3 linked regions of the Homo sapiens genome follow. The protein of the gene in region 2 purifies or fractionates together with the protein of the main gene of each other region. This does not show direct contact. Each region holds a gene or a part of one and is shown on either strand. Other genes may lie near its edges.

Evidence for each region.
Region 1: the proteins of ARID4A (region 2) and SUDS3 purify together in Homo sapiens (affinity purification with mass spectrometry; 2 studies listed by BioGRID and IntAct, with this or other methods). This does not show direct contact.
Region 3: the proteins of ARID4A (region 2) and SIN3B purify together in Homo sapiens (affinity purification with western blotting; 2 studies listed by BioGRID and IntAct, with this or other methods). This does not show direct contact.

What each region holds. Positions count from the first base shown.
Region 1 is NC_000012.12:118,407,526-118,417,539, reverse strand, and holds part of SUDS3 (sin3 histone deacetylase corepressor complex component SDS3), read right to left. Parts: intron 6,468-10,014; coding exon 6,383-6,467; intron 3,206-6,382; coding exon 3,107-3,205; 3' UTR 1-3,106.
Region 2 is NC_000014.9:58,299,948-58,309,961, reverse strand, and holds part of ARID4A (AT-rich interactive domain-containing protein 4A), read right to left. Parts: intron 8,383-10,014; coding exon 8,272-8,382; intron 5,019-8,271; coding exon 4,953-5,018; intron 3,941-4,952; coding exon 3,850-3,940; intron 1-3,849.
Region 3 is NC_000019.10:16,822,658-16,833,652, reverse strand, and holds the start of SIN3B (paired amphipathic helix protein Sin3b), read right to left. Parts: upstream 4,256-10,995; 5' UTR 4,233-4,255; coding exon 4,113-4,232; intron 3,863-4,112; coding exon 3,756-3,862; intron 2,160-3,755; coding exon 2,006-2,159; intron 1-2,005.

The sequences.
Region 1 (10,014 bases), on a different chromosome or scaffold from region 2:
TGGACAAATTGGTGTAACAGTAAGCACCGAGATTTCAAATTCCCAGATGAGAAAAAAAAAATTAATCAGGAGGAAATTTATTTAGTAAAAATTCAAAGCTAAAGAAATGTGAGAAGGAAGCCAAACCCAAAAAACTGTAAAAAATACAATCTTCTCTCCAGAATTAGGTTAAAAAATACAGTCAACCCCATTCTAAACCCCATATTTCTTAGAAAAGTCACCCAGTCCTGAACACAGGGTCTTATACACAAATACATGTAGCTTGATTTGCAGATCAGCCTCTGGGATCGACCTTACACTGGCCCCAATTAGAAGTTCAAAAACAAAAATTAAGTTAGGTAGTCAGACATCTATAAATACTAGTATCCGCATGAATGAAAACACCCTGGCTTTGGTATGGCTACAGAAATCCATCTGGAAATTATTCAAAAGGACGTGGTTCAGGGAAAAGGGGGTAGGCAGGGCATGGGGGGAGGGGAACACACAAAACCCCCAAGCAGAGGTAAAATGAATATTGGAACACACCCGCAGCAAACACTGTACATAGACTTGAGGCAGATGCCTCTAACACAACACATATACAGGTTCTTGATCAAAATGGTCTGGACCAACCTTTTTCAAAGTAATCACCTGCAGGAAAGAGTTTAAACTTGGAAATTCATCTGGTGCCCTGGGGTCTAGTGAGAAACAATGACCTTTTGGAATAATGGCCACCCAGGCTAGAAGCTAGCCTCCTTCTCGTCTAGAAACTTCAAAGTCTGTCTTCCCCTTTAGTAAGGCTTCTGCCCACCACAGAAGTACCCCCATCTACTAACAGGAAGGCTGCTTCTGTTCCTGGTCACCACTGAGGCCTGTCAGGCTTCAACTGCTGATTTTTCACCTCTGGGGTGACAAAAGAAAATATTAAGTCCTCTGGGATTAGAAATGTAATTTACTATGCTGATTCTCAAAATGGACTTCTCACCTGCCCCCATTTTCACTAGGCCCAATTAAGAGTTGTGAGGACGCCGAGGAGAAGGCAATGGCGGAGTCGAGACTATGACTAAGGGCGCCCTCAATACCCTCAAAAGTCAGAGAGGAGAGAAGGCAAAAGTGCCCATACCCTGGTCTTCAAATAAATAGTTGCTTCACAAAAGCAGAGGTCCCACAGAGAAGGCCAGAAAAAGAGGCAATTTGTTCCTGCTTCAATGCGGAACCCCAGTGGTTATCAATACAATCCTCAACTATAAAAACAAACTTTGGTATACTGTTTAGGAGGACAAAACACATGATCATTGAAAAACTCCACCTTCAATGGAAAAATACATGAAATATATCTAATTTCCATCGCAGGGCACTACATGAAAACCAACAGCTGCACAATATGTGATGTGACACACACATCGTATGTGTAACAGTTCAAGCGAGGGAAGTCCTGCCTCACAGTCAAGGCTAACAAACAAGAACAGGTGAAGCCTGTGTTTACCATGGGCTGGGTTCACTGTAGTAAACATCATAGCAGTCGGGGATTGGAGGGCAGAGAAGAAATACAGAACCCCAGGCAACTTTTGATAACAGCGTCATTTATCCTGTTTTCTAAATAAGACTCCAACACCAGAAAAAAAAAAAAAAAAGAGGAAAAAACGGATTGTAAGTTAAAACAAAAATCTATCTGTATAAGTCTTTACTTGTACAAGTCTGTACAAGTCAGTAAGGTTTGGTCTCTGCAGAGCCAGAACTTCAGAGAAGGTGATTTAATTGTCATCACAGTCCCCCCAACTTGCTTGGGGGTATGTACATCAAGAGACAACATGAAGAGAATCACTTGAGACCAAAAGAATTACTTACAAAGAAAGATTTCCTAGGATGTGTAAGTTCTACTGATTGCTCATAGAGACGCTAACAGTTGCTCTAACCCCAAATTTTTTGAACATCTCAAGATGGCAACATGAGTATAGAAAACCCCAACACTCATCACCCAATGAATCATTTCTCCAATCATGGGAGTGAGGGAAGGATGTAGGAAAGGCTGTTTCATCAGGACTCATTAGGGAGGGTGTCAGTCCAGAGGCAGCCACAGCAGAGCTTTCCTTGTCTTCAACCTGGGCCAAATGAAGCTGTGAGCGCTCAGGGCCTGACAACAAAGTTCTCCACAGGTTTGGAATGGCCAATGTGCAATAATGGCATCAGCCACAAGAGTGAAACTTGAATCGTGCATGAGGGTCTATAGATCACTGATTATTGCACTATCAATCTCACCTCCCACCCGTAAAAGATTACCCAGATAATCAGCCTGTGGCACATACTTACTACTACCTACTTGGGAACAAGGGAGAGGAAGGAATTACAAATGAAAACTTCTGAAATGACCACTGCTTATTCCAGCTTAAGCTAGAACAAATGTTTGAATAAATCACCTGCATTAAATAACATTTAAAATATGGTACCTTCAGCACATTATAAATATGAAATGTCCCCTCCCCCAACCCCATTTACTTCAGTGCACATAGTCTTCCAGGCAAGCTTTTCCATCGCTCAGCGAGCGGAATGGATGGTGTGCACAGATGTTACACAAAGCATTTATTTCTCTGAGAAGGCCGAGAGCCACGAGAATTCATCATCTCCTGCTAGGACCTCTGCCCCAAGCTTCTGGGCAAATAGTGAATTGGACGCGACAGGGAAAGTAGCTACGTGATCCACTAATCAGATTCAAAACATGAAAATGCACTGGAGAGTGTATCCCTTCCTGCTCTTCTCCATGGTAGAGAGACTTAAAGATAATCAATAAAAATAGCTGTCCCTTCAAACTCAGAGGAGGTTTTCAAAAACAAGTATAAGCAAAAAATAAAGAAATAAAAGGAAAGTAAATCAAACCCCCCAATACGCCTGAAAGTAAAACAGTCTCATGGTGACTGATGTCTGGAAGAAGTTGAGGCAGAAAAGACTGACAAAGTTGGAAGCATCCGGCCACAAAAGTGCCCTAAAGAATTCACTGCAGTGCTCTCCATTTCCAAGGCTGAGTAGCTATTCCCAGTAAGTTAACATTTTTCTATTAAGGAGAAAACGAAACAAAACAAAAATAAAACCCACTCCAGAAAAAGGGTCAAGAGAAGAGCACTGTAGAAAGTCAAGCAGCTGAGCGCCGGCGGATCACGAAGAGCCCGCGCTGAAGCTGGCCCAGGTAGATCCTCATCTTGGTGCTGTCACTTGTCTTCCTCACCCAGATCTGCAGGGGAGAGGAAAGGGAACAAGATGAAAAGTTAAATACAGAAGAGCAAATCTCCTACACCATCAAAATATCTGCACGAGTGAGATGCAAGCAGAAGGCTGGTAGCCTCTTGCTGGAATAAACTGTCTCAACTTGTGAGGGCTTCATAAGCACCCCTGACCTCGGGCCATCTAAAGGCATGCCGCTGGGAACAGGCATCAGCCTTGAACTCGTTTCTCAGCCATCTCTCTCACACCTGTGATTACGAAAATGGAAAGCACAGCAATCTTGGGTTCCATTTCTGCCTTGATCTTAAAGATGCTTTTAAATTTGGTTTGATTACTGTGTTATCAACACTCAAGAGACATCTATTCATAAACACAAACTTTCAAATTTGGAAGTATTTTCCTTGCTCCAAGGGACTTCCATATTATACAAACTTTCAATACTTTGGTTTCCTGGCAATGAAGGCTAATGGTTGTGCAGAAAAACAGGGAAAAAATATCAACAATAGAAAAATGCCCACTAATGAGCTAAGGCCCAATTAGGATCATGAGAAGGTTGAAGCACTTCCGAGAGTCCTTCCCTCCTCACCATATCCCCCTCTCACAGACAGTATTAGATTACAGTGCATTTTACAGGGCAGATGCATTCTTCCATTGAATTGAGAATGAACTCTTGCAACAGGGGACTGCCAGGGCTGACAAAGTGCACTCAATAAGGGGCATCCTAAAGCCATGGGTGAGAAGGGGAGCTGCTGCCAGTCACCTGACCCCCTGAGCCAGGGTTACTGAGCTCTGTGTGCCAGACACCATGCTGATCAGGCTGAGCTTTTTCACCCGCAAGACAACCCTATGAAATAACTACTATCATTGGCCCCATTTTAAAGAAGAGGAAACCAAAGCTCAGCAAGGCTGAGTCACTTATCACGACGTGAATTCTGGTGTCTGACATCAAAGCCCCTGGCTCTTCTCTACTAAAGCAGTCTCTGGCTTCTTCTTGCCTGTTTTTCTGTAACATGCAATTAAATAGAGCCAAAAGCACAGTTTTTTGAAAGGTCTGCATCTCACCCAAATATACAAGTTTACAGATTTATCTCCTCCTTCCTGGACTCAGTTTTCAGGTTTTAAAAAAGCTTATTCTGTTTCATCTCAATTTCTTTAATGTGATTATTCAGCAGTATCTCTACTGCTTTAAAGTCAAATACACTGGCTTAAAAATTTAAAAAGTTAAAGACCTCACATGAAGCTAAGCCTCCAAGGGACCTTGCAGAATCATTTTAAATGAAAAACTGATCCCAAGAAAAGCTAAGTCAGGGAGTCATCCACACACTCAGAGCTACCCACCAAACCTGCTTGGAGTCAAGCTATGCTAAAGCCAAGTAGCTCCAGTGTCACCTAGAATTTGATCTGAAAAATGAGCTGGAACACTTTCAAGAAATGAGAACGGTTTCCCCATTGCCAGAGTTGCATGTCTTCAGTGCACTGAAGCTTCTCCCCTCCAGAAGACGTGTTTCAGTGTCACCATTTGTCAGATCTCACTGACACTCTATTATGTCAAGACGCGACAATATTCGGCAGAGAGAGGGGAAAAACAATCTAACTTGCATTTATATTTTTCTGAAAAATCTTGAGGTATCATAGAGGAGAATAATGCACTGGTTCTGAAGTTAGGGTCAGGTACTAGAAGGCCACATGTGCTTGTGGAACAACCCAGACAGCCAGGTGCAAATGATTACCATGAAATCGTGACACCTCTTGGCTGAGGACCAGGTCTCTCTATTAGCTTCCCTGTTCTGGTTCTGACTTGGCTTGAGGGGACTCACACGGATCCTCAGCCCAGAGAAGAATGGCATTCATTTATCTAGAAGGCTCTCCCTAACTTCTAAGTAAACAATCATTTTGCAAACTAGTCACATTTCAGGGCATTTTCAATTCAGGAAGCTGGAAGAATAGAAGAGGCTTAAGTTACTTCATAATCCAGTTTCATTACATTTACTGTGCACTGGCACGAATAAGTTACAGAGGGCAGACACATAGAAATCAATTTCTTTGCAGACATTTGTGGACTGATAAAAGATCAAGCCAATCCAGCTATTAAAGTTTTTAACTTTAACTAACAACATAAGTTACACATTGCTTATATACTCCTCATGAAAGACCACTTGGAGAACTCAGAGGGCAGTCATATCATCCTCAGGTATAACCCTCTGAGCTGACTTTAAAACCAGACCCCATCCATCCTAAAGGAGTGTCTCGAGGAGACCAAAAACCAAGGGCATAACCCTGGCAACTTGTTTTGAAGCACAATAGGACATCTCAGCTAGGAAAGACGGCAGGCAAGTGGCGTGTGGGTCGTTTCAGGCCAGCACTCACTTAGTGAGCACTTACTGGGTGCTAGACCCTGTGCCAGGTGCCTCATTCAATCCTCACAGCAAGAAACAAATCTACTGGTATGTGTGAAAGTTCTAGAGAAACAAAACCAAGATGGAGTATGCTCCACAGTCAAGCTCCATTCTCAGTAGATGGTTACCTTAAAAAGAAGCAGGAGTTGGCCAGGTGTGGTGGCTCACGCCTGTAATCCCAGCACTTTGGGAGGCCGAGCTGGGTAGACCACGGGGTCAGGAGTTCAAGACCAGCCTGACCAACGTGGTGAAACCCCATCTCTACTTAAAAAAAAATACAAAAATTAGCCGGGCGTGGTGGTGGGTGCCTGTAATCCCAGCTACTCAGGAGGCTGAGGCAGGAGAATCACTTGAACCTGGGAGGTGGAAGTTGCAGTGAGCCAAGATAGCACAACTGTACTCCAGCCTGGGCAACAGAGTGAGACTCTGTCTCAAAAAAAATAAAAATAAAAAAAAAGAAGCAGGAGTTGAATGTACAGACACCACACAGACTTGCTTTTTGTTCTTTCCTGGAATCTAGCTCCGTGGTTCCCAAATCAGTAGCTGTACCGGGAGTTCACAAATACCCCATGGAATAGACAAATCCGCATATGTTGTAGTCAAGCGAATGTAAGGACTTTTCAAGGATGATTTTGACAATGTGCAATTTCTGCCTGACTTTAGAATCTAACCCACATAGAAGACAGTACTCCACTGTACTTCCTTGGTGGCACTTTCATTTCAGGTTTGCCCTACCAACACTTCGCAGTACACATTTTGCTTCCCTAAAGGTGAGGGAGTGTGGTTCCCACCTCATTGGCTCCTACAGAACTGATCACGCAGCTCAGTTTCTGGTTGTCCTTTGACTCCAGATAGATGGCCTGGCTCTTGTGGTACCTGACAAAAACAAGGCACACATTTTTAAAAAGGGAGGGACAGAGACAGGAAGTAAAAACCAAACAAAACAAAAACACCATCACAACAAAAATTATAATTAAAGAAGTCTTAATAATTCACATTTGAGGAATAGCCTGGATTTCCCATTTAGCTTAATTTAAAGGCTTCCATCCTGAGGCCAGGCGCGGTGGCTCAAGCCTGTAATCCCAGCACTTTGGGAGGCCGAGGCAGGCGGATCACAAGGTCAGGAGATCAAGACCATCCTGGCTAACACGGTAAAACCCCGTCTCTACTAAAAATACAAAAAAAGTAGCCGGGCATGGTGGCAGGTGCCTATAGTCCCAGCTACTTGGGAGGCTGAGGCAGGAGAATGGTGTGAACCCGGGAGGCGGAGCTTGCAGTGAGCCGAGATGGCGCCACTGCACTCCAGCCTGGGCGACAGAGCAAGACTCCATCTCAAAAAATAAATAAATAAATAAATAAATAAATAAAATAAATAAATAAATAAATAAATAAAGGCTTCCATCCTTAGGTTAGAAGACCACCTAATCTTCTTTGGGATCTAAAGCTTATATTCCTTGGTCCCTCTACAGAAGGGAAAAGGCTGAGGAAAGTGTTGGAAAACTATGTATTTTTCCCTTTTTTTGGACTATATGACCCAGTTCAAAAAGTAAATTAAAAATTGTTAAATAAAAACTCTGTTTCCCCTTTCTGACCCCACACCAGAACACTGAAGAAGGTTGGACAGACAAAATATACAGGCATAAGCCACCGTTATTTATTTTCTATTTGTCCAAGTCAGTCACCAACAAGAAGGAAGGCTGACTTTAACCCTTTAGTCAGTCATTCAAAAATACTCATTAAGCACTTACTGTGTACCACGGACTATGCTGGAGGCTGGGGACAAACAGTGAGAAAGGCCACAAGTTCTCCACTATCACAGAGATTCAAATACACTGGGGATAAGGAACATTAAATAACCACACCTGGTAACAGCTAATCAGGCAAAGTTCCAAGTGCCATGACGTATACCAAAGGGTATCTAATTTGGCCTGGACAGTTGGGAAAGCTGCTTTGAATACAGTAGATAAGACAGACACTCCCCTTTCAACTCCTGCATCTACTCTCAACCTGTAGTGTAGGGCCACTTCTTATTTCTACAAGTTCAGAGACAAGGCCAAGGATGAAAGTGAAGTTGCTGGGGGCCAAAGCCCAAATGGGACAAAAGCAGCTGCCACAGGATGAAGGAGCCCCTGCTGGATTACAAGAGTTGGAAGTATCAGCGGAGCTGCAGCTAGCAACCCTGGCCTGGGCCAGCCCCACGTCGATTAATAACATAAACTTTGGTTCATTTTGGCTGCAAAGATCTGGCTAACCAGACCCATAAACTCGTGTAAATTTAGTAAAACACATCTCCCAGCAAAGCATGATGGCTTATTCTGTTTTGCTGGTATAAGGAAATAACCTATTGCCAAGACATGGCAAGTAAAGGATGCACTTCACTCCCATAATGAGCTTTTTCCAGTCTAGGGTCTCAATTCTCTTTAACCTGCTACTTATGAACTGAAAACTCAGGTTTCCAAGTCAATGTACTTTCTGAAAATACTGTTAAAAGAAACAGAATTTTAGGCCGGGCGTGGTGGCTCACGCCTGTAATCCCAGCACTTTGGGAGGCCAAGGTGGGCAGATCACAAGGTCAGGAGATCGAGACCAGCCTGGCCAACATGGTGAAACCCCATCTCTACTAAAAACACAAAAATTAGCCGGGAGTGGTGGCAGGCTCCTGTAATCCCAGCTACTCGGGAGGCTGAGGCAGGAGAATTGCTTGACCCCGGAGGCGGAGCTTGCAGCAAGCCAAGATCATGCCACTGCACTCCAGCCTGAGCAACAGAGCGAGACTCTATCTTAAAAAAAAAAAAAAAAGAATTTTAAATTCAATTAGAACAGCGAGAATGGTTTAAATGCAAGTTTTAAAGTTGCTTTTGGCCCTTTATTAGTTGGTAAACTGGCAGGGGACCTTCATTATGCTAAATATGTATTATCACAAGGGCCGAACTGTACAATGCATAAGAAAAGGCTAAGTTCATACTAACACTAACACTTCCCCTTGTTTCTCTCTCACATCTGAGCCAGCTCTCCTATGTAAACAGTCATGTCTTGAGTAATGGTTAAAATAAAAATACAGAGGGAGAATACTCACAGTTGTTCTAAAGGGACTGTAAGTTATTAAAGAGATAAAGACACAAAACAAAATGCAACTACCCTCAAGTCATTCTGATACAACTTTCTAAACACTTTAATAAAGAAAGGTCATGGATGTGGTGTAGAATATTACGAGTGTGGAAACATGCTCCATATACTGGTAGGTAAAAAAAAAAAAACCAAAAAAAACTATGTCAACTATGTTCCTGTGTTTATGATAAAACATACACATGTTACAGCTGGGTGCAGTGGCTCACGCCTGTAATCCCAGCACTGCGGGAGGCCGAGGTGGGTGGATCACTTGAGGTCAGGAGTTCAAGACCAGCCCGACCAACATGGTGAAACCCCCATCTCTACTAAAATTACAAAAATTAGCCAGCATGGTGGTGTGCGCTTGTAATCCCAGGTACTCGGGAGGCTGAAGCACAAGAATTGCTTGAACCCAGGAGGCAGGGACTGCAGTGGGCTGAGATCATGCCACTGCACTCCAGCCTGGCTGGAAGAACGAGACTCTGTCTCAAAAAAAAAAAAAAAACTGGCCAGGTATGGTGGCTCATGCTTGTAATCCTAGCACTTTGGGAGGCCAAGGTGGGTGGATTGCCTGAGCTCAGGGGTTCGAGACCAGCCTGGGCAACAAGGTGAAACCCCGTCTCTACTAAAATACAAAAAATTGGCCAGGCGTAGTGGCTTACGCCTGTAATCCCAGCACTTTGGGAGGCCGAGGCGGGTATATCACGAGGTCAGGAGATAGAGGCCATCCTGGCGAACATGGTGAAACCCCGTCTGTACTAAAAATACAAAAATTAGCTGGGCGTGGTGGCGGGTGCCTGTAGTCCCAGCTACTTGGGAGGCTGAGGGAGAGAACAGCTTGAACTCGGGAGGCGGAGGTTGCAGTGAGCTGAGATGGCGCCACTGCACTCCAGCCTGGGTGACAGTGCGAGACTCTGTCTCAAAAAATATAAATAAATAAATAAAATACAAAAAATTAGCCAGGCATATTGGCGTGTGCCTGTAGTCCCAGCTACTCAGGAGGCTGAGGTAGGAGAATCGCTTGAACCTGGGAGGCGGAGTCTGCAGTGAGCCAAGATTGCGCCACTGCACTCCAGCCTGGGCGACAGAGCGAGACTCTGTCTCAAAAAAAAAAAAAAAACCAAAAATAACACATATACATGTTACATGTGTATCCATGTATCATATCCTCACAAAGGTCTTTTAAAGAAAACAGCTGACTCTGGAAGGCTATTCCAACAATTCTCATGAGATGCATTGTATTTTCCTTCAGTGGTACTTAGAACCCAAACCCAAGAAATTCAACTGACTTAAAAGCGAACACCCAGAGTAAACA
Region 2 (10,014 bases):
ACTACATTAAAAACCTTATAAACCTGCAGGACATTCTACAAAATTTAATTAATTCACCAGTTGAATCTAAACCTCCTCTACTCAATATTAACTAGAACTTACACAAAATCTGATATAACCGATGTTCAAAACAGTAACTACAAGGTACAAAATAATCTGAATCTTAAGCACTTCTTGTTACAAAAACATTAATACAGATGATAGATTTTAGTGCTAAACTTGATAAATGATCTGTGTGTGTACATTTTCAAAGTTAATTACTAGAATTACTGAAATTTCTATCCTTTAACTTTTCCTTACTTTTCAAGTATATGTTTTTATATTACAAAAAGGCAAAACAGAGAGTACCTTCAAAATGTCTTACTGACAGTTGTATTTACCAGGAGTTAGTGGTAACATTTAACTGGACATATTAATTCCTTTTTTAAAAAACATAACTAGAGATTTGGGCTGGATAGAGGTATGAATTCTAATCCCAATTTTAACACCTTTTGAATGACTGAACAGATAACACACTTCCACATATTACAGATTCCTTATCTTTAATGGCAAGGATAACAACTATCAATGAGTAAACTATGGTAGGAATGGTAGGAAGAGGAAATATTTCTATTGCTCAAAAAACAGAAACAAAAAAATCCCCTTGAGTTGGTGCTGTTTACTATTCAACATTAAAGGGGAAGCTGAGAGCAGTGGCTCATGCCTGTAATCCCAACACTTTGGGAGGCTAAGGCGGTAAGACTGCTTGAGCCCAGGAATTCAGGGCTGCAGGAAGCTACAATAGTGCTACTGAACAAAAGCCTGGGCAACAGAGCAAGATCCTGTCTCTAAAACGAACAAACAAACAAGAAATAAACCATTAGAGGGTAAGATATTACCAGATTTTTTAAAAACTGAGTCATACTATATCCATAATCTCTTTCAAAATTGGTTAATCATGTTTAACAGAAGGGAAATTGATACCTGTATTATGCAAGAAGAAGTTAATATCACTGACTCTAATGATAACTTTAGATCACTAATGATCATAACTCCTATTTGATCCAAACCAGCAATGTGGTATCCTCTTGTTTTATTTTTAATAATCTGACATAATTTCTGGTATCTCATGAAACCAAAAAAGGTAACACACGTCATAAACACTCTGAATAATTTTCTGACTATACCCATGTAATACTTTGCTAGGAACTAGAAATCAAAAAAAATTCCAGAAAAGAGCAATTACACCTAATAGGTAGGTAGTAGGTACTCACTGAAAGAAAAATACAGGATGTTCATGACCCAAGAGGTTTTACATTTCATTGTACTGTTTTTTTTAAACCAACTGGTAACTCAGGTCATTATACTCTGATCATTCTTTATGTGATCCACTTCCTTCAATATCTAAACGTTCTTTAGAGCAGTGCTATCTTGAGTTTTCTGAATGGAACAGTGCCTTTCAAAATCTTTTTATGAATTTCCTTCATGCACGTAAGTGCAAAAATCTTTAATATTTTGAATTTTTCTCCCAAATAAATCTGTTTTTCCCTGTTTTTATAAGTGTGAACTACCTGCATCAGAATCACTGACATGCTTATTAAAACATTCTTGTACTGCCATCCCCAGGCCTACTAATTGGAGAGGCTTGGGGTCCTCAAATCCTCATTTTTCTAAGCAAGCACCAAGTGATTCTTATGTCCACTAATGCTTGATACCTCAATTATATGCAATTAAGATTCTAAAGCTCTTTGAGAACAAGAATTATACAATTTCTTCTGTAATTATCCAACACAGAAAATCACCATAGAGAATGCTTAGCAGTGACTAGTTTTTAGAAACACTAAAACGCTACTCATGTAGAGGACAAAGGTTGCTATTCATAATTGAATAACTACTCTGGGATAAAGAAACCCAAAATGAGAAAACCTGAAAAGTAATCCTTCTATAGAGCATGCGCATTTTATCAGTAAAGCTTCAAAGTGAGTACAACCTTTATAGTGAGTTAAAATATAAGGTGCAATATAAATATCTGAATATGCATCATATATTTTCCGGTGATTCTACACACACCTGTAATTTTTATCAGGTCTTAGTTTGATAAAGCAAAGATGTATTTACTTAATCTCTAAGAGTTAACATTAAGCTTAGTTTTTATTTGTTTTGAGACGCAGTTTTGCTCTTGTTGCCCAGGCTGGAGTGCAATGGCACAATCTAGGCTTACTGCAACCTCCGCCTCCCAGATTCAAGCGATTCTCCTGCCTCAGCCTACTGAGTAGCTGGGATTACAGACGCCCACCACCACACCCAGCTAATTTTTGTATTTTTAGTAGAGACAAGGTTTCGCCATGTTGGCCAGGCTGGTCTTGAACTCTTGACCTCAGGTGATCCGCCCACCTCGCCCCCCTAAAGTGCTGGGATTACAGGTTAGAGCCACTGCATCTGGCCACTTAGTTTTTAAAATTTAACAACTATCAGTAGCCACAACTAAGCTTCCTAAAAATATGTAGTTCAGAATAATAGCACCACTGTGAACCAACACTAAATTCTAGTAAGTCCAAGAAGCATCAAAGAGGTTTGAAAAAAGTACTTACACACAGCAAATTGGTACTACTAATAGAAGGTACAGGGTAAGACAGAGAAATTTTTAACCAAAGCATAGTTCTTCACAACACTGAGCATCAACTGGATGTGAATGATTTTTACCCAAAGCAACAAATCAAGTAAACTAAAAGTAAACCTAAATGGTCATTCTTTTATTTCTACAAGAAAACCACAAAATAATTATACCACTTAAACCAAGAAATAAGTATAAAAACCAACAATGCTATAGATTGGATGTTATCCACAGGATTGTGCAGTTTGAAAGTACTGAGAGGAGATTTGGAAATGTTACTTAATGCTATTCTCATCAACATAATGACAGCAACTATTTAAGTACTACTTTAAGGTTTTAACTTACAAGTATTATGACACTTGTTGCTTCTCACTATTAATACAATAAAGTTATCTAAAGCCAGTATAAGCTTATGCATGGAATGTTAAGAATGCATTCATGCATTCATATTAGGAGCATCTATATTTTTCTTAAAAGCTGTTTTCTTTTTGAGACCAAATCTCACTCTGTCGCCCAGGCTGGAGTGCAGTGGCATGATCTGGGCTCATTGCAACCTCCGCCTCCCAGGTTCAAGCGATTCTCCTGCCTCAGCCTCCAGAGTAGCTGGGATTACAGGCATGCACCACTAATACCAGGCTAATTTGTGTATTTTCAGTAGAGACGGGGTTTCACCATGTTGGCCAGGCTGGTCTCGAACTTCTGACCTCAAGTGATCCACCCGCCTCAGCTTTCCAAAATGCTAGGATTACAGGCATGAGCCAACATGCCCGACCTTGAAAGCTGTTAATATGAGCACCCACACTGTATCAAAAATCAAAAACTAAGTTAACAATCACCTATTCTTGAATCTACCATGGTCAGGATTTTTTAAATCTGTAAATTGTCTGGCAACATCTACATTACCCTTGTATAAAATATGTAGCAATACAGTAACGATCGCAACTATGCAATTTTAATTGTAATTATAGAAAAAGTGATCACAATCATGTGATCTAACTTTCTTGAAAAGAAACATCAAAGTAACCTAAAATAGAAGTACATTTTTGGATGAAATAGACAAAAGTGGCCAACTTACTGTAAGAGATAATTATTTTTGTTACCTACAGGGCATTCTTAGAATTTTAGTCAGCTATATCCAGTAAACTGACAGGAAATAATATATATTTCTCCACCAACACAATGATTCAGTGTATCCACAAAACACAGATACATGCAACCTCCAAATCAAATCTGTGTTAAATTACTTAATTACTTACCCACGGTATACCAACTAGCATCTGTCAACTTGCTGATAATAGCTTCCTGAAAAGATCCATCAGATGTCCTTGTTTCAACAATAGCTCCAACCTAAAATGTGAAATCCCAATTTCCTTACCAAATTTAAACAAATAAACCAAATCACTCCCACCAACTATATAATCTAGCTAAGAAAAATAAACACCATACTTATGATAATTCTATCTTACACTGTCTGAGATCTTTATCATTCATAGTACTTATCTATTTATTATGCAATTTGAGCTCCAAAACACTTTGACAAAAGTTAGGTAGCTATTATTACCCCTACTTTACACACTGAAAATTGCCGTTCAGAAAGAGAAAATAATATGCAGAGTCCAGCATGACAGCCCAGTCTCTTAAATCTTACTTTAGAGCTTTTCCACTATATCACATTGCCTTCAAGAAAATTAAATCGAAGAACTGTAAAATTATAAGACAACCAAAATAGCATCCATTTTCTTTCACAGAAATAGTGAATATTGGATTCAGCATTTGTATTTAAGGTACCTTTTAGATAAAGGTTCACCTGGAGAGATAGGGATGGACCAGTTGACCTTCTTTCAGTTTCCAGACCTTTGTATATCAGATATTAACCAAAGTGGTACTCTGATATAACAGATTTATTACATAAACAAATGGCCAGAAATGCATGGAAAACATAATCTAGGTATTCATTAAATTGAATTAGGAAGTGAACATAGTTTACTTGGTAAATTAGAACAACCAAAGATTGATGGTTATGATACTCAACTTAGAAGGCTAAACATCACCTCAGATACAGCAACAATGTGAAAAACAAAGCCAGGTATCCAGTTCAAGAATTCAAAACAGAAAGGTAGGTGAAAAACTTAACATGTTTATATATATTAAATTACCCTTCTAGAAGATGTTTAGTATCTAAAACAGAATACAGCCATTGCAATATCACAATTTATACTAATTATATTTAAACCCTTCATATGTATTGTTTTCTGATTAACGTTCTCATAAAATGTTAAGTCTATGTAGAAATGTAAATTCAGTAAATATGGTATAAATCTATGATTATTTCAGATTTTAAACCGTACAACATACATACTCTTAAAGGACCCTTTACTTGGTCATCTTGTACCAATTGTGTGGTATTATCCTGTTTCAGGAGTACCTGAAAAACATTTTGCACAATAATTTGCATATTACTTTTAAAACAAATACATTTATAGTAACACTATAACAATAATGTCTTTAATTTATGCTTTCTTAGCACCATGTGGTGACCCCTGCTAATGTAATACTTATTACATTCTCTTATTAACTGTGAGCTCCTTGAGGGCTGAGTCTTCCCTTCATTGCTATATCCCCAACAGTTAGCAAGTGTCAATGCATATTATCAGCACTTAATAACTGTTTACTAAATGAACTATATAATAATCTTTAATGATTACTGTAAAAAAAAACTGCCTTTATTGCTTTTTATCAAGTCACAAAAGGTTCTGATTGCCACCAAGTACACAAAGAAAAACAACAGTATCAAACTGTATTGCCTATATGAAAGGTAAACAAATTAAAACCAGAACTCTGATCCTTTATAAAGTGAAGCTAAGCAATAATCGTAATATGCACTGATACAAACAAGTGCTCCCTTCTACTACACATCTAAAGACATAAAGTAACCATCCGTAACAGATGGCTGGTTACTATGGTCCAAATAATAGATGGTCCAAATAAATTCAAAATCTAGGTAATGTATGGTAAGACCTCCTAAAACAATCATTGTATTAATTTTAAGTAAATAAGAGCCACAATACCAAATTTGAATTGTTAAAGAATCCCAAATAAATATAGAGTAATCAAATCCTATATAGCTGACATGATAAAAACACTGTATGAAACAAAAAGAAATGAATGTCAATTGACATCCTATCCTAATACTTGAAGGTTCATCAAGAAAACTGAAACATAAATTTTATAATAATCATAGATACATCTATTTAACCTACAAATCACACTCCTCTAGTCAATGTTTCTCAAACTTTTTTTTTTTTTTAGGCAGGGTCTCAACCTTCGCTTCCCCAGCTCAAGCAATTCTCGTGCCTCAGCCTCCCAAGTAGCTGGGATTACAGGTTTGCACCACCATGTCTGGCTAATTTTTTGTATTTTTACTAGAGACAGGGTTTCAACATTTTGGCCAGGTGGGTCTCAAACTTCTAGCCTCAAGTTATCTGCCCACTCTGGCTTCCCAAAGTGCTGGGATTAATGACCCACCGTGCCCAACCTGATTCTTAAACTTTTAACATGCATCAGAAATATTTAAAGGGCTTATTAAAACACAATTACTGGATCTTACCCCCAGAGTTTCTGATGAAGTAGATCTGGGGTGGGGAAAATTTGCATTTGGAACAAGTTCCCAAGTAAGGCTGATGCTGCTGGTCTGGAGGGACCCTTTAGGAATCACTGCTCTAGTTCACTGATTCATTCAACAAATTTTGAGGGTCCACTATGTATCAGGCACTACTCTATGTGTTGGGCATAGAACAAGTCAGACGTTTCCTCCTTTTATGGTGCTTAATTCTGGTAGGAAAACATCAGATATATAAGTGAATAAAGCAAACTGCAATACAGCATGATCCAATACCAATGACAATAATTTTATGACTGGCACAGTAAAAAAAATCTGGAAGACCACATCAAATCTCTTTGGAGTCGTATCAAGGAGGACTTTCACAGTGTTCTATACCGCAGCAGGATGACTGTAGTTAACAATGCTATATCACATTGTTTCAAATGGCTAAGAGGAGGATACTGAATATTCCCAACACAAAGAAATGAAAAATGTTTGAGATGATAGATATGCAAATTATCTTGATTTAATCACCATACATTATATGTATCAAAACATGACTATGTAGCCCATGAATATGTAAAATTATTATTCATCAACTTAAATAAAATTTTTTAAGGAGGACTTCATTAACTATATGATATACCTCTATAATGTTAAAAATGTTTATAATAAGCATAGGAGGTATCTAAGTATAAAGTAACGAAGACTATTAAAAATATATTCATATAAGAAAATTACTGGCAGGAACCACCAAAAAAAAAAGTTATTTCAGAGTAAAAGCATCTTAAAAAAAAATTTTTTTTTTGAGACAGGGTCTTGCCCTGTCATCCGGCCTGGAGTGCAGTGGCACAATCACAGCTCACTGCAGCCTTGACCTCCCAGGCTCAAGCAATTCTCCCACCTCTGCCTCCAGAGTAGCTGGGACCACAGGTGCCTGCCACCACACCTGGCTAATACTTTTTATCTTTTTTTCTGGACAGACAAGATCTCACTATGTTGCCCAGGCTGGTCTTGAATTCCTTGGCTCAAGCAATCCCCCCATTCAGGCTTCCCAAGTGCTGGGACTGCAGGTGTGAGCCACTTCACACAGCCAAAAATATACATATATATTTTTAGTCTCCCTCTGTCACCCAGGCTGGAGTGCAGTGGTGTGATTTCGGCTCACTGCAATCTCCACCTCCTGGGTTCAAGCGATTCTCCTGCCTCAGCCTCCCGAGTAGCTGGGACTACAGGTGTGCACCACCATGCCAGGTTAATTTTTTTATTTTTTGGAGATGGAGTCTAGCTCTGTTACCCAGGCTGGAGTGCAACGGCATGATCTTGGCTCACTGCAACCTCCGCCTCCCGGGTTCAAGCAATTCTCCTGCCTCAGCCTCCTGAGCAGCTGGGATTACAGGTGCCTGCCACCACACCCAGCTAATTTTTGTATTTTTAGTAGAGACAGGATTTCACCATGTTGGTCAGGCTGGTCTCGAACTCCTGACCTCAGGTGATCCACCCACCTCAGCCTCCCAAAGTGCTGGGATTACAGGCGTGAGTCACCGCGCCGGGTCTAATTTTTGCAATTTTAGTAGAGACAGGGTTTCGCCACGTTGGCCAGGCTGCTCTTGAACTCCTGGCCTCAAGTGATCTGCCCACTTCGGCCTCCCAAAGTGCTTGGATTACAGGCATGAGACACTACGCCCAGTCACAAAATAAACTTTTTAAATGCTTTTTTACACTGTCTTGAAAACATAATTCCTGTTGTATTTGTATTGTCCTAAACACTAAAATTGTCTCTACCTGAACATTAAATGAGGGGAGAAAATAGATTACAGTCCAAGTATGCTACCACAAATAGTTAAGAGCCAAATGACAGGAAATATCATGAGCATGGTATTTTGATGGTAGCATTTTGGAATAATTTCTCCTTTTGAGTTTTTTATTTCTTTATTTTTGATGTGCTTTTCCTTTAAGTTTGGTATATAAAGGGTTTTCATATAATGACTCAATAAAATGCTGATTTGCAGTCTCTCTCTCCCCAAATTTCTTCAATCTAGAGTTAATAAAACTATTGCATAAAAACAAATATTACCTTAACTTTCACCAGCCTTTTCACAGTCTTAATCTTTGCCTCACAGAAGGCACCTCGGTACTTGGCACTGACATCGGTTCCCACTGTCAGGTAGGCAGGCTCATCTGCCGCCTGGTGAAAGGAACATAAAACTGTGAATGTCATTACTATGCCTCCCTACTCCAACCTCAAGTCTCATTAAAAGGTTGTGTTTGAAGCATTAAGAATATTAAAATGACTTGCTTATTAATATCATTGAAAATTTGAAAAATACCCTAAATACTTGATTAGCAACCTTTCATTTTATAGACTGATGTCCTGATATGATAAAATGTTTTAAAGTTGTAATTCAAAATTATCAGTGATTAATAATGTTTTGTCTCGATACAAAATTTTTCAAAAATTCTACTATTATATAAGCAGAAAGATAAGAAAAAAACAGAAAAAATATTTCATATTACACATATCATAAAACTAAGTTATTCATTTATAGCTTCCTGAAATTTTTCAAATTAAAAGAAATATTGCTACTAATATTAACACTAACAATACATAATTGTTTATTGACATAGCCACATAAAGGTAACATCTTTTCATAAGGAAAGTATCATTTGGAAAATTCATTTGCTAAAAGCTGCACTTGAAAGGTTTTAAGTCTGAATTCAGCCGATGAATGCAGATATGAACTGATGGCTCCAGACTTGTAGGTATACCTAGTTTACCACACTAATCTTCTTAGTATAAAAAAATAAGCGTTACTAAGAAACATCTACTTTCAGCAAATGGACACGACCAGAATGATACATAGAAAGATGTAAGAAATGTCACTCTACCACTCATTTTAATTTTTACAGTAACAGGATGATTGCTATCTCAATCTGTCATTTTACCTTTTTTTTTTTTTTCCGGAAGTTAAAGTGTATCCATACAAGTTCAACTTAACATTGTTAAGTGCAAAGTTAACAGTGTACACTTTGGAGATACGTTTTGAAGTAGAAAATGATTTTTTGTTTTCTAATAAGTTTTCCCAAGTAATATTAAAGAAGGTTAAATATGTCATTTACTTCGAGAAAATAGAAAACCACGAGAAAGTTTGGGAAAATGCTATATTTCAGAGCTTAATATGCTGAAACAGTAAATAAGACAGGAATTGGGTACCTTTTAAAGTAAGTGCATTTACAAAAAATACAAATTGAATAGGAATGCTTTTGGCAAACAAAAATCTGACCTGAAACATTCAATGGCCACAGCATTCAAGAACGCTATATGAGATCCTTTCCCTTTAACCATCCACATACTGATATTTGCAGTCATCCTCAGTAGAATATGTATCTTTTTAGTATATGTTTTAAAATACTTATTGGAAAGATTTAACTAAAACTATTATTATACTTCAACTTCAAATATTTTAGCCACATAAGTTCATTTTACACACAGAAGAAATGATACCTTCATTACTTAATCCACGTATTCTTTCTTTTAGAAAATCGCATTGGCACACGGGAAGAAAAAAAATTTACAAAAAATCCCCCAAAGAACCAAAGCAGGACAAAAGCTTTACTTCTGCAAAGGTTGCTGCCAACACAGGAAGTGTTTAAAAATACTATCCGAATGGACAACAATTGAAAGGCTGCACCAGCCTTTCCAAAGTACTGCTACAGAGAGGGCCTAAACTCCGCATTTAGACACACAGATCATTTTTCACCCATTCAACACATCCTCCTATGCCGAAACTGCTGATCAGTAGGAACATCAATTTTGAGT
Region 3 (10,995 bases), on a different chromosome or scaffold from region 2:
AGCAGAATTTTTTTTTTTTTTGAGACGGAGTCTTGCTCTGTCACCCAGGCTACAGTGCAGTGGCACAATCTCTGCTCACTGCAACCTCCGCCTCCCAGGTTCAAGCAATTCTCATGCCTCAGCCTCCCAAGTAGCTGGGATTACAGGCATGCTCCACTGCGCCTGGCTGATTTTTGTACTTTTAGTAGAGACAGGGTTTCACCATGATGGCCAGGCTGGTCTTGAACTCCTGACCTTGTAATCTACCCATCTCGGCCCCCCAAAGTGCTGGGATTACAGGCGTGAGCCACTGCGCCTGGCCGAGAAGCAGCAGAATTGACACACACCTTGCACATGGAATTAATACAAAAGCACTGCCACATTACCCTTCGCTGTTCTCTTTCCAACTGACTGCGGAGTGTCAGATCCCTAATTGATTGGACGCTCTATCATCTCTTCCATCAAAGAAGACCTACCAAGTGCTTCCAGCAGTAGATTCTGACACTCCCTGCTAAAACTCTCGAGGCAAGGACTGGAGGAGGTTGGGAGAGCTGGTCCACTTACACCGGTGGTTCTCAACAGGGGCACTTTTGCCCCCCAGGGAGACACCTGGCAATGTCTGGAGACATTTCTGGCTGTCAGAACTGAGTGAAGGTCTGGTAGGTACACGCTACAGATCCTGCTAAACACCCCACAATGCACTGGGAAGCCCCCAACAGCAAAGAATTATGCCTTAAATGGGAAATAGTGTTGAGGTGGAAAAAATGACAATGGTCATCTTATAAAAGGAAATCTTAAGTAGGCTTTCTTTTTCTCAGAGGCGCTAGTAAGCTCAAGCATGAAGAGACTGCAGAGATAGAAGGGGCAGTGAGCCAGGCACAGTGGCTCACTCCTGTAATCCCAGCACTGTGGGAGGCCAAGGTGGGCACATCGCTTGAGGCCAGGAGATCGAGACCAACCCTGGGCAACATAGTGAGACCCTGTCGCTACAAAAAAAATAAATAAATTAGCTGGCCGTGGTGGTGCACGCCTGTAGTCCTAGCTACTTAGGAGGCTGAGACGGGAGGATCACTTGAGCCCAGGAGGTTGAGGCTGCAGTGAGATATGATGGCACCACTGCACTCCAGCCTGGGCAACAGAGTGAGAACCTGTCTTAAAAAAAAAAAAAAAAAAGGAGGCTGGGCACGGTGGCTCACGCCTGTAATCCTAGCACTTTGGGAAGCTGAAGCAGGCAGATCACTTGAGGTCAGGAGCTCAAGAACAGCCTGGCCAACATGAAGAAACCCCATCTCTACTAAAAATACAAAAATTAGCTAAGCATGGTGGTGCACACCTGTAATCCCAGCTACTCGGGAGGCTGAGGCAGGAGAATTGCTTGAACCTGGGAGGCGGAGGTTGCACTGAGCTGAGATTGCGCCACTGCACTCCAGCCTGGGTGACAGAGCCAGACTCCGTCTCCAAAAAAAAAAAAAAAAAAAAAAAGAGGGCCAGCACCTATCACCCAAGAAAAAAGGGACCAAAGCAAAGCCAGGAGTCCCAGCTGAGCTAATGATCCTATCAACAATTAAATGAAACACAGCCAACATAAACGTGGCTACTCACACACCATCTCGACCACTTTATTTTGTAGGTGGTACTGAGAGTGATCAGAGGCAGACGAGGACATGCTTAAATACAAGGGCAAGCCTGCCTGGTATGCTCGCTGGGAAAGCCTCAAGCCAAGACCTCAGCAACTGCTGAGGTGGTTATTTAGACTTCACACAAAATTCTGCGTTAGGAGGATACCTCCCTGACATCCACTCTTGATTTAAATCTTCCAAACAGATCAATTTGGGAGGCAGAGGCTGCTTGTGTAGGTGTTTCCATATCTATTTTGATTTGTGCTAGAAGCAATGAGCACGTCTAGAAAAAGAACAGATCTTAAGTGGCTTTCTAGCAATGATACAGGAGAGACACGTGGCCCAACCTGAGTAGCAAGACATACTCGGTGAAGGCTGAGATCACCCGAACCACTGTAGTGGCATACCTGGCTTGTCAGAGGCGACTGTATGTTTAACTTGCCATTCTTGGGAATGTCTATTCTATATCCGAGGGGAAGAAAAGCGTTGAATCCAACAATGAGGTCAGGGTGCTCGTGGAAGAGCTGCGAGACACGTCTGATGACTCCAGGAGTATCGATGCTAGAAGAAACAACGGAAGTGGGCAAAAGGGTCTTGGGAAATAAATGAAAAATATAATCTATTCCCCACTCCCTTGATACTGCCACATAAAAACCTTCTCAACAGACAACAAAGGAACCTAAAATGTGACCCACCAGGCGCAGTGGCTCATGCCTGTAATCCCAGCACTTTAGGAGGCCGAGGCAGGCAGATCACCTGAGGTCAAGAGTTCGAGACCAGACTGGTCAACATGGTGAAACCCTGTCTGTACTAAAAATACAAAAACGAACTTGGAGTGGTGGTGCGTGCCTGCAGTCCCAGCTACTCAGGAGGCAGAGGCACAAGAATCACTTGCACCCGGGAGGCGGAGGCTGCAGTGAGCCCAGATCACACCACTGCACTCCAGCCTGGGCGACAGCACGAGAATCCATCTCAAAAAAAAAAAAAAAAGTGCCCCCATGTGATAGCATCTGTACACCATGACCTATCTCCTGACTGGCTAGGCCTGAGCTCCCTGTTCCCTCCTGGTGAGAACCAGAGAATACTGACATCGCTCAGCTCCCCTAAAACACTCCAAGAATGGGTACTCGGTTCTGAAAATGTCAGGAGAGCCAACCGCAAGGCCTGGACTCCAAGAAATGGCAGGAGGCCAAAGTCCTCTAAGCAATGTGAAAACTTCCCTCATTTTGTATCAGATAGAGATGACTATGACACAGGTTTCCATCTGAGCAAACAATTGCAATGCATAAATACCAATGGTACTGCCAAGAATGGGAAAGGTGTAAGAAAAATAGGAGGGGAGAGATGGGGTCTCCCTTCTGGCTGCATTGCAGCCCAGCCCTTAGCACTGGGCTCCCGGAAGGAAACCAGGCCAGCCCCACCATGTTTCCTAAGAGGGGGCAGCAGTATGGTAAGCATGTGACTTCCAAGAATCTGAGTCAGAGGGTCTGAGTTCTAGTGACACCTCTGCCACTTAGGTGGGTCCCTTACCCACTCCAAACCTCAGTGAGTCTCCTATAAAAACAAGGGCATGATCCCAGGGTTTCCCATCTATCTGTAATCTTCCTTGATTCTGGGCCTGCAAAATCATCTCATGTGTTTTAAACGTTTTCTGTGTGCCAGCTCCCTTACTAAGCATTTTATGCGTCTTACTTCCAAGCAGGCCTGGGACCACAGTGAGCCCAGAGAAGCATCTTGAGGACAAGATTAAAGGGGAAGAGGGTGCCAAAAATTTCAATCATCAAGACAATAACATTTTACAGCGCTTGAAAATAAAAATCAAAATGGGTCCCACCAAATCTTTCATGAACAAAACTAATATAAAAATCAACATATTAAATCAAGGCAGGATTTGACTCTATGAGTGTGCACGGCCTCGCCCTCCCTGCCTCCCCCCAGATCCCTGTCCTGCTTCCAGGAATCCCCACAAAGCTCCACAAGGTGGGTACTACCCATTTCCATTTTTGTTACGAGAAGGAGCTAGGGCTCTGAGAGATTGGACAACCTGCGCAAGGTCACCCGGCTAAGGGGGCAGGCTGGAGAGGGGAGGTCTCACCCCGCTAGGCCCGATTCCGGCCCAGGGGGGTCCCCTGAGGTGGAGAGGGGCCCCGCTGGTACCTCTGGCTTTTGAACTCCTTCATGATCTCCAGGAAGCCGTTGTAGGTGGCAGGGTCGCTGCCAAAGCGGATCTTCACCTGGTCCAGATAGGTGAGGGCGTCTTCTACCTGCAGAGAGGGGGAGGGTCCCGGTGGGCCCTGGCCGCGGAACGAGGGGACGAGGGGCCGGGGTCCCTGAGGGGAAGGGGATGGGCTGGGCTTTCGGAGGGCCGAGGTGAGAGGTGAGGGGTGAGGGGTCCGGGGCAGTGCAGAGGGGAGGCCGAGGTGGGGCTGGGGCCGGGCGGGGCCTGGGTGAGGGGCGCCCGCCCGCGGGGTCCAGAAGATGGGTTCCCCGAGGGAGGGCGGGGACGCCACTCACGTGCACCGGCAGCTTCTCGTGGCCTGCGGAGCCCGAGCGACCCCAGCGGGCGCCGCTCAGCCCCCGGCCCGCGGGGCCGCCGGCACCGCTGCCACCGCTGCCACCGCCAGCGTGCGCCATGTCCGAAGTCGGAGCTGCGCCCCGCCCCGCCCCCGCCCGAGGTCCTGCCGCGCATGCGCAGCCTCCGCCTTTGGAGGCGGGGTTTGATGACGTTGAGGGGCGGTGCTCTTTGAGGGACTCTTCTGAAGACCTTCTCCTTAAGATTGGTATCATAATTAATGATTTATATAGCAGGGGTAGGCGAGCCAAGACCCGCCGCCTACTTTGTCCGGCCCCGCAAGCTCAGAATTATTTTTACATGTTTACATAGCCGGGGGAAAAATCCAAAGAAGAATAGTCTATGACCTGTGAAAAGTTTGTGAAATTCACATTTGAGGGTCCCTGAATAAAGTTTTATTAGCACACAGACACGCCCACGCGTTTACCTGGCTTCTCTGCCTGCTTTCGCCTTACAACAGAGTAGGTAGTTGCTAAAGATCCTACAGATCTGCAGACCCTGAAGTATTTACGATCTGGCCTTTTATGGAAAAAGTTTGTTGGCCCCTGCTTTATAGAGTTGACGGGACGATGAGGTATGAGCCCCCAGCGCCCTAATATAGGGCCTTGCGTGGTGAATTTTTGCTAAATGGCCTTTAAGTTAGTCCTACTCCTCCCATCTTCACTTCCCTATCCTTGGCCCCGTCACTTCCCATCTGGACCAGTTTAGGAGCCTCCTAACTCTGGTACTTTCTTTTTTTTTTTTTTTTTTTTTTTTTTTTTTTGAGACAGAGTCTCGCTCTGTCGCCCAGGCTGGAGTGCAGTGGCGCGATTTCCGCTCACTGCAAGCTCCGCCTCCCGAGTTCACACCATTCTCCTGCCTCAGCCTCCTGAGTAGCTGGGACTACAGGCGCCCGCCACTGCGCCCTGCTAATTTTTTGTACTTTTAGTGCCACCCCACCTGGCTCTAACTCTGGTACTTTCTCAGCCCTGATACTATCAAGAACTCTAGGCTGGGGATGGTGGCTCACGCCTGTAATCCCAGCACTTTGGGAGGCCGAGGCGGACGGATCACGAGGTCAGGAGATAGAGACCATCCTGGCTAACACGGTGCAACCCCGTCTCTACTAAAAATACAAAAAATTAGCCGGGCCTTGAAAAAAAGAAAAAGAAAATGAAAAAATTGGCTGGGCGCCGTGGCTCACGCCTGTAATCCCAGCACTTTGGGACGCCGAGGCGGGCAGATCACCTGAGGTCTGGAGTTGGAGATTAGCCTGACCAACATGGAGAAACCCCGTCTCTACTAAAAATACAAAATTAGCCGGGCTTTGTGGCGCATGCCTGTAATCCCAGCTACTCGGGAGGCTGAGGCAAGAGAATTGCTTGAACCCGGGAGGCGGAGGTTGCAGTGAGCCAAGATCACGCCATTGCACTCCAGCCTGGGCAACAAGAGCAAAAACTCTGTCTCAAAAAATTAATTAATTAATTAATTAAATAATAAAATAAAATGAAAAAATTAGCTGGGCGTGGTGGTGCACACGTTTAGTCCCAGCTACTCGGGAGGCTGAGGCAGGATTGCTCATGCCCAAGAGTTCAAGGCTGCAGTGAGCCATGATCTTGCCACTGCACACCCCAGCCTGGGAAGCATAGCAGTGCTTTTTTTTTTTTTTTTTTTTAAAGAGCATCTCATCTCTTAAAAAAAAAAAAACAGAAAAACAAAAAACTCCACTTTTTCCACCACTCCTTCCAAACCTCCAAGGTCTTCCTATTTCTAATGAGATGAAATCTAAGCACCTACATTGCAGGCTGTCAGAATTGGTCCTTAGGAACCTTTTCCTGCAGGATTTTCCAAGCAAACTGCCTGCCTCTGTGCAGAACTTCACACAATTGCCTGACCAACCTGGCTGCTTCCTGGTCCCAAGCATTGGCACTCACCATTTCCTTTGCCAGAAGTACTGTCATGCCTCTTTGTTATTCAGAAAACACCTATACATCCTTCTAAACGCAGCCCAAATATCCCTTTCCCTCAGGAAGTGTTCCCAGTCCCCTTCTATGTCTCCCCTCAGTCCCTTGTATTTCATATTTGTTTTGTGTCCGTCTCTAATACAAATCCCTGACACAGTCTCTCAGTCAGCATTCATCAAATAAGTGAACGTTCAATTAATGACCAAGTGCTTTCTCTTTTTATAAGTGAAGAGGTGCAGGAAAGTTGAGAGTAAATTGGCATCGAGTGCATCATTTACCAGGCACCTTGCTAAGTGTCAGGAATAGAATGGTAAAAAGGAACGCAAATTTGGCCGTTAAGAGCTTTTAGTCTCTCAGGATAGACAGGAATCTAGTAATCACACAAATGTAAAGTTTCACATGTAACAAATACTTTAAAGAGAAGGTATACATGTAACAGTTCCTAAATTTCTGTTGCTATGACTGTGTAACAAATGAGCCCTTGACAATCCCAGCACTTTGGGAGGCCAAGGTGGGGGCATGCATTGAGGCCAGGAGTTTGAGACCAGCCCAGGCAACATAGCAAGATCCCATCTGTACAAAAACATTAAAAAGAAAGAAAAATGGAGAGAAAAAATAAAAACATTGTAAGGTCTGGGCTTTCTGTAAAAGAAAATAAAAAGCAGCTCAAGACTTAGAAGCTTCAAATGACAACAACATTCACGGGGCAAGTGGCTCATGGCTGTAATCCCAGCACTTTGGGAGGCAGAGGTGGGTGGATCACATGAGGCCAGGAGTTCAAGACCAGCCTGGACAAGATGGTGAAATCCCATCTCTACTAAAAATACAATAATTAGCCAGGTGTGGTGGCACACACCTGTAATCCCAGCTACTTGGGAGGTTGAGGCATGAGTATCGCTTGAACCCAGAAGGTGGAGGTTGCAATGAGCTGAGATTGCGCCACTGCACTCCAGCCTGGGGAACAGAGCAAGAGCAAGACCCTGTCTTGAAAAAAAAAAAAAAAGAAAGAAAAGAGACATTCATTTTACTCTTCAATCTGCAATTTGGGCAGGCTTGGGAGGAATAACTCAACCTTGGCATCAGCTGGGTGGCTCAAAGTCTGGGGGCTGGAATCACCTGAATGTTTGCTCACACATATGTATGTCAGTTGCTACAGGCTACAGGCCGAGACCCTCGCTGGGGCCGTTGCTTGGAATACCTACATGTGGTCTCCTTGCAGCCTGAGCTTCTTCACAACTACCGTTCTAAGAACAAGTGAGCGTGTGAGCCAGGTGGGAATCATATCATCTTTTCTTTTTCTTCTTCCTCTTCCTCTTCTTCTTCCTCTTCTCCTTCTCCTTCTTCTTCTTCCGGAGATGGCAGGGGTTGGGGTGGGACTCAGGGTCTCAGGCTGGCCCAGGCTGGCCTCAAACTCCTGGACTCAAAGGATCCTCCCACGTCAATCTGTTGAGTAGCTGGGACTACAGGCATGCATCACTGCACCCAGCTCCCATATTACCTTTTCTCACCCAGACTCGGAAGTCACGCAGAATCATTTCCATTGCATTCTTTCCATACAGGCTGTTACAAAGTTTTTCCTAAATTCAAGAGGAGGGCAAATGGCCAAGAGTATCATGTGGGACAGGAAATATGTTGTGGCTATTTTTGGAAAATACCACCTGTTACCTAGGGAAACCTAACCCAGTCTTGCAGGAGATGAGGGAGGCTTCCCAGAGGAGGTGGCATTCTAGCTGAGATCTGAAGAATGCGTAGGCATTCATCATGAGAAAAATCACGAACAGCTGTGATTTTTGAGGTGGGAGACAGCATGGTACATTTCAAGAGTTTTTTTTTTTTTAAGACGAGTTTCCCAGGCTGCAGAGAGGGAGGGGAAGAAAGAGAGTACAAGATAATCCCGGAGCAGCCAGAGGAGCGGAACACACAGCACCTTATGCACTGAGTTCAGGCTTTAGCATTCACGCTGGTGGAAACCATCCAAGGGCTTTGAGCGGAGGAGCTGCAAGTTCAGGTTTGCATTTGAAAGTGATCACTCTGGCTGCTCTGCAGGAAAGTGATTGGAGCGGAGCCAGGGAGGGTGGAGGGAGGCTGTTTCATCATTTAGGCAAAGGACGATGGTGGCTTAGACCAGGATGGGAGCAGTGGAAGTAGAGAGCGGTGGGTGGAAGGGAGTGGTATTTAGAAAGTAAAGCATGGAAGATTTGTGGCTCCCAGCCAGGAAGAGCAGCGAAGGCAGACTGAACACTCTGTGGCCACCAGATGTCTGGACAGTCCGTTTCTTACCAAAGCCTCCCAGTGTTACAGGAAATGGGTCCCGATCCAGACCCCCCAGAGAGGGTTTTTGGATTTCACGCAAGAAAGAATTCAGGGAGAGTCTGTAAAGTGAAAGCAAGTTTATAAGGAAAATAAAGGAACAAAGAATGGCTACTCCACAGACAGAGCAGCCCCGAGGGCCGCTTATTCCCCATTTTTATGATTTATTTCTTGATGATATGCTAAACAAGGGGTGGATTATTCATGCCTCCTCTTTTTAGACCATAGAGGGTAACTTCCTGACGTTGCCATGGCATTTCTAAACTGTCTTGGCGCTGGTGGGAGTGTAGCAGTGAGGACCACCAGAGGTCATTTTGATTTGGGTAGATTTTGGCCGGCTTCTTTACTGCAACCTGTTTTATCAGCAAGGTCTTTATGACCCGTATGTTGTGCTGACCTCCTATCTCATCCTGTGACTAAGAATGCTTTAACCATCTGGGAATGCAGTGCAGTAGGTCTTAGTCTTATTTTACCCAGCCCCTATTCAAGTCGGGGTTCCTCTGGTTCAAACACCTCTGACACTGTTACGGGAAAGGGGTCCCAATCCAGACCCCAAGAGAGGGTTCTTGGATCTCACGCAAGAAAGAATTCAGGGCCAGTCCATACAGTAAACTGAAAGTAAGTTTATTAGGAAAGTAAAGGACTAAAGAATGGCTACTCCATAGACAGAGCAGCCCCCAGGGCTGCTGGTTGCCCTTTTTCTTAGACAGAGTCTCGTTCTGTCGCCCAGGCTGGAGTGCAGTGGCGCCATCGTGGCTCACTGCAAGCTCCGCCTCCCAGGTTCATGCCATTCTCCTGCCTCAGCCTCCCGAGTAGCTGGGACTACAGGCGCCTGCCACCACACCTGGCTAATTTTTTTTGTATTTTTAGTAGAGATGGGGTTTCACCATGTTAGCCAGGATGGTCTTGATCTCCTGACCTCGTGATCCGCCCACCTTGGCCTCCCAAAATGCTGGGATTACAGGTGTGAGCCACAGCGCCTGGCCGCCCATTTTAATGGTTATTTCCTTTTGAGACGAAGTCTTACTCTGTCGCCCAGGCTAGAGTGCAGTGGCGCGATTGCAGCTCACTGCAACCTCTGCCTTCCAGGTTCAAGCGATTCTCCTACCTCAGCCTCCCAAGTAGCTGGGATTACAGGTGCGTGCCACCACGCCTGGCTAATTTTTGTATTTTTAGTATTAGAGACGGGGGTCTTATCATGTTGGCCAGGCTGGTCTCAAACTCCTGACCTCAAATGATCTATCCACCAAAGCCTCCCAAAGTATTGGGATTACAGGCATGAGCCACCGCGCCTGGCCAGTTATTTCTTGATGATACGCTAATCAAGGGGTGGATTATTTATGCCTCCCCTTTTTAGACCATATAGGGTAACTTCCTGATGTTGCCATGGCATTTGTAAACTGTCATGGCACCGGTAGGAGTACAGCAGTGAGGACAACCAGAGGCCACTCTTGTCTCCATCTTGGTTTTGGCTGGCTTCTTTACTGCAGGCTATTTTATCAGCTAGGTTTTTTTTGTTTGTTTGTTTTTGTTTGTTTTAGACGAAGTTTCACTCTTGTTATTCAGGCTGGAGTGCAATGGCGCAATCTTGGCTCACTGTAACCTCCACCTCCCAGTTCAAGTGATTCTCCTGCCTCAGCCTCCCGAATAGCTGAGATTACAGGTGCGCACCACCAGGCCCGGCTAATTTTGCATTTTTAGTAGAGACGAGGTTTCTCCATGTTGGTCAGGCTGGTTTCAAACTCCCGACCTCAGGTGATCCACCCACCTCAGCCTCCCAAAGTGCTGGGATTACAGGCATGAGCCACCGCGCCAGGCCAGTAAGGTCTTTATGACCCGTATCTTGTGCTGACCTCCTAACTCATCCTGTGACTTAGAATGACCTAACCATCTGGGAATGCAGCCCAGTAGGTCTCAGCCTTATTTTACCCAGCCCCTATTCAAGATGTTGTTGCTCTGGTTCAAATGCCTCTGACATCAGCAACCTATTAGTCATCGTCCTTGAGGGCCAACAGAGTTGTCCCACAGTGTGCCCCTCCCCACAGGGAGTGTGGCTTCTACTCAAATTTGTTTTCTCTCAAATGATCAGCAAAGGCCCTCTTTCATTTGGGGAAGAGGAAACTGTTACCGAAAAGGGGTCTTCATCCAGACCCCAAGAGAGAGTTCTTGGATCTCATGCAAGAAAGAATTCTGGACAAGTCCATAAAGTAAGTTTAAGAAAGTAAAGGAGGCCAGGTGGCTCACGCCTGTAATCCCAGCACTTTGGGAGACGAAGGCAGACAGATCGCTTTTTCTCTACAAAAAACAAACAAACAAACAAAACAAAACAAAAAATTAGCCTGGCGTGGTGGTGCACGTCTGCAGTCCCAGCTATTTGGGAGGCTGAGGCAGGAGAATTGCTTGAGTCCAAGAAGTCAAGGCTGCAGTGAGCCATGGTCGTGTCACTGCTCTCCAGCCTGGGAAACAGAGCAAGATCCTGTCTCAAAAAAAAAGAAAAAAGGCTAGGTGCAGTGGCTCATGCCTGTAATTCCAACACTTTGGGAGACCGAGGAAGGCAGATCACCTGAGTTCA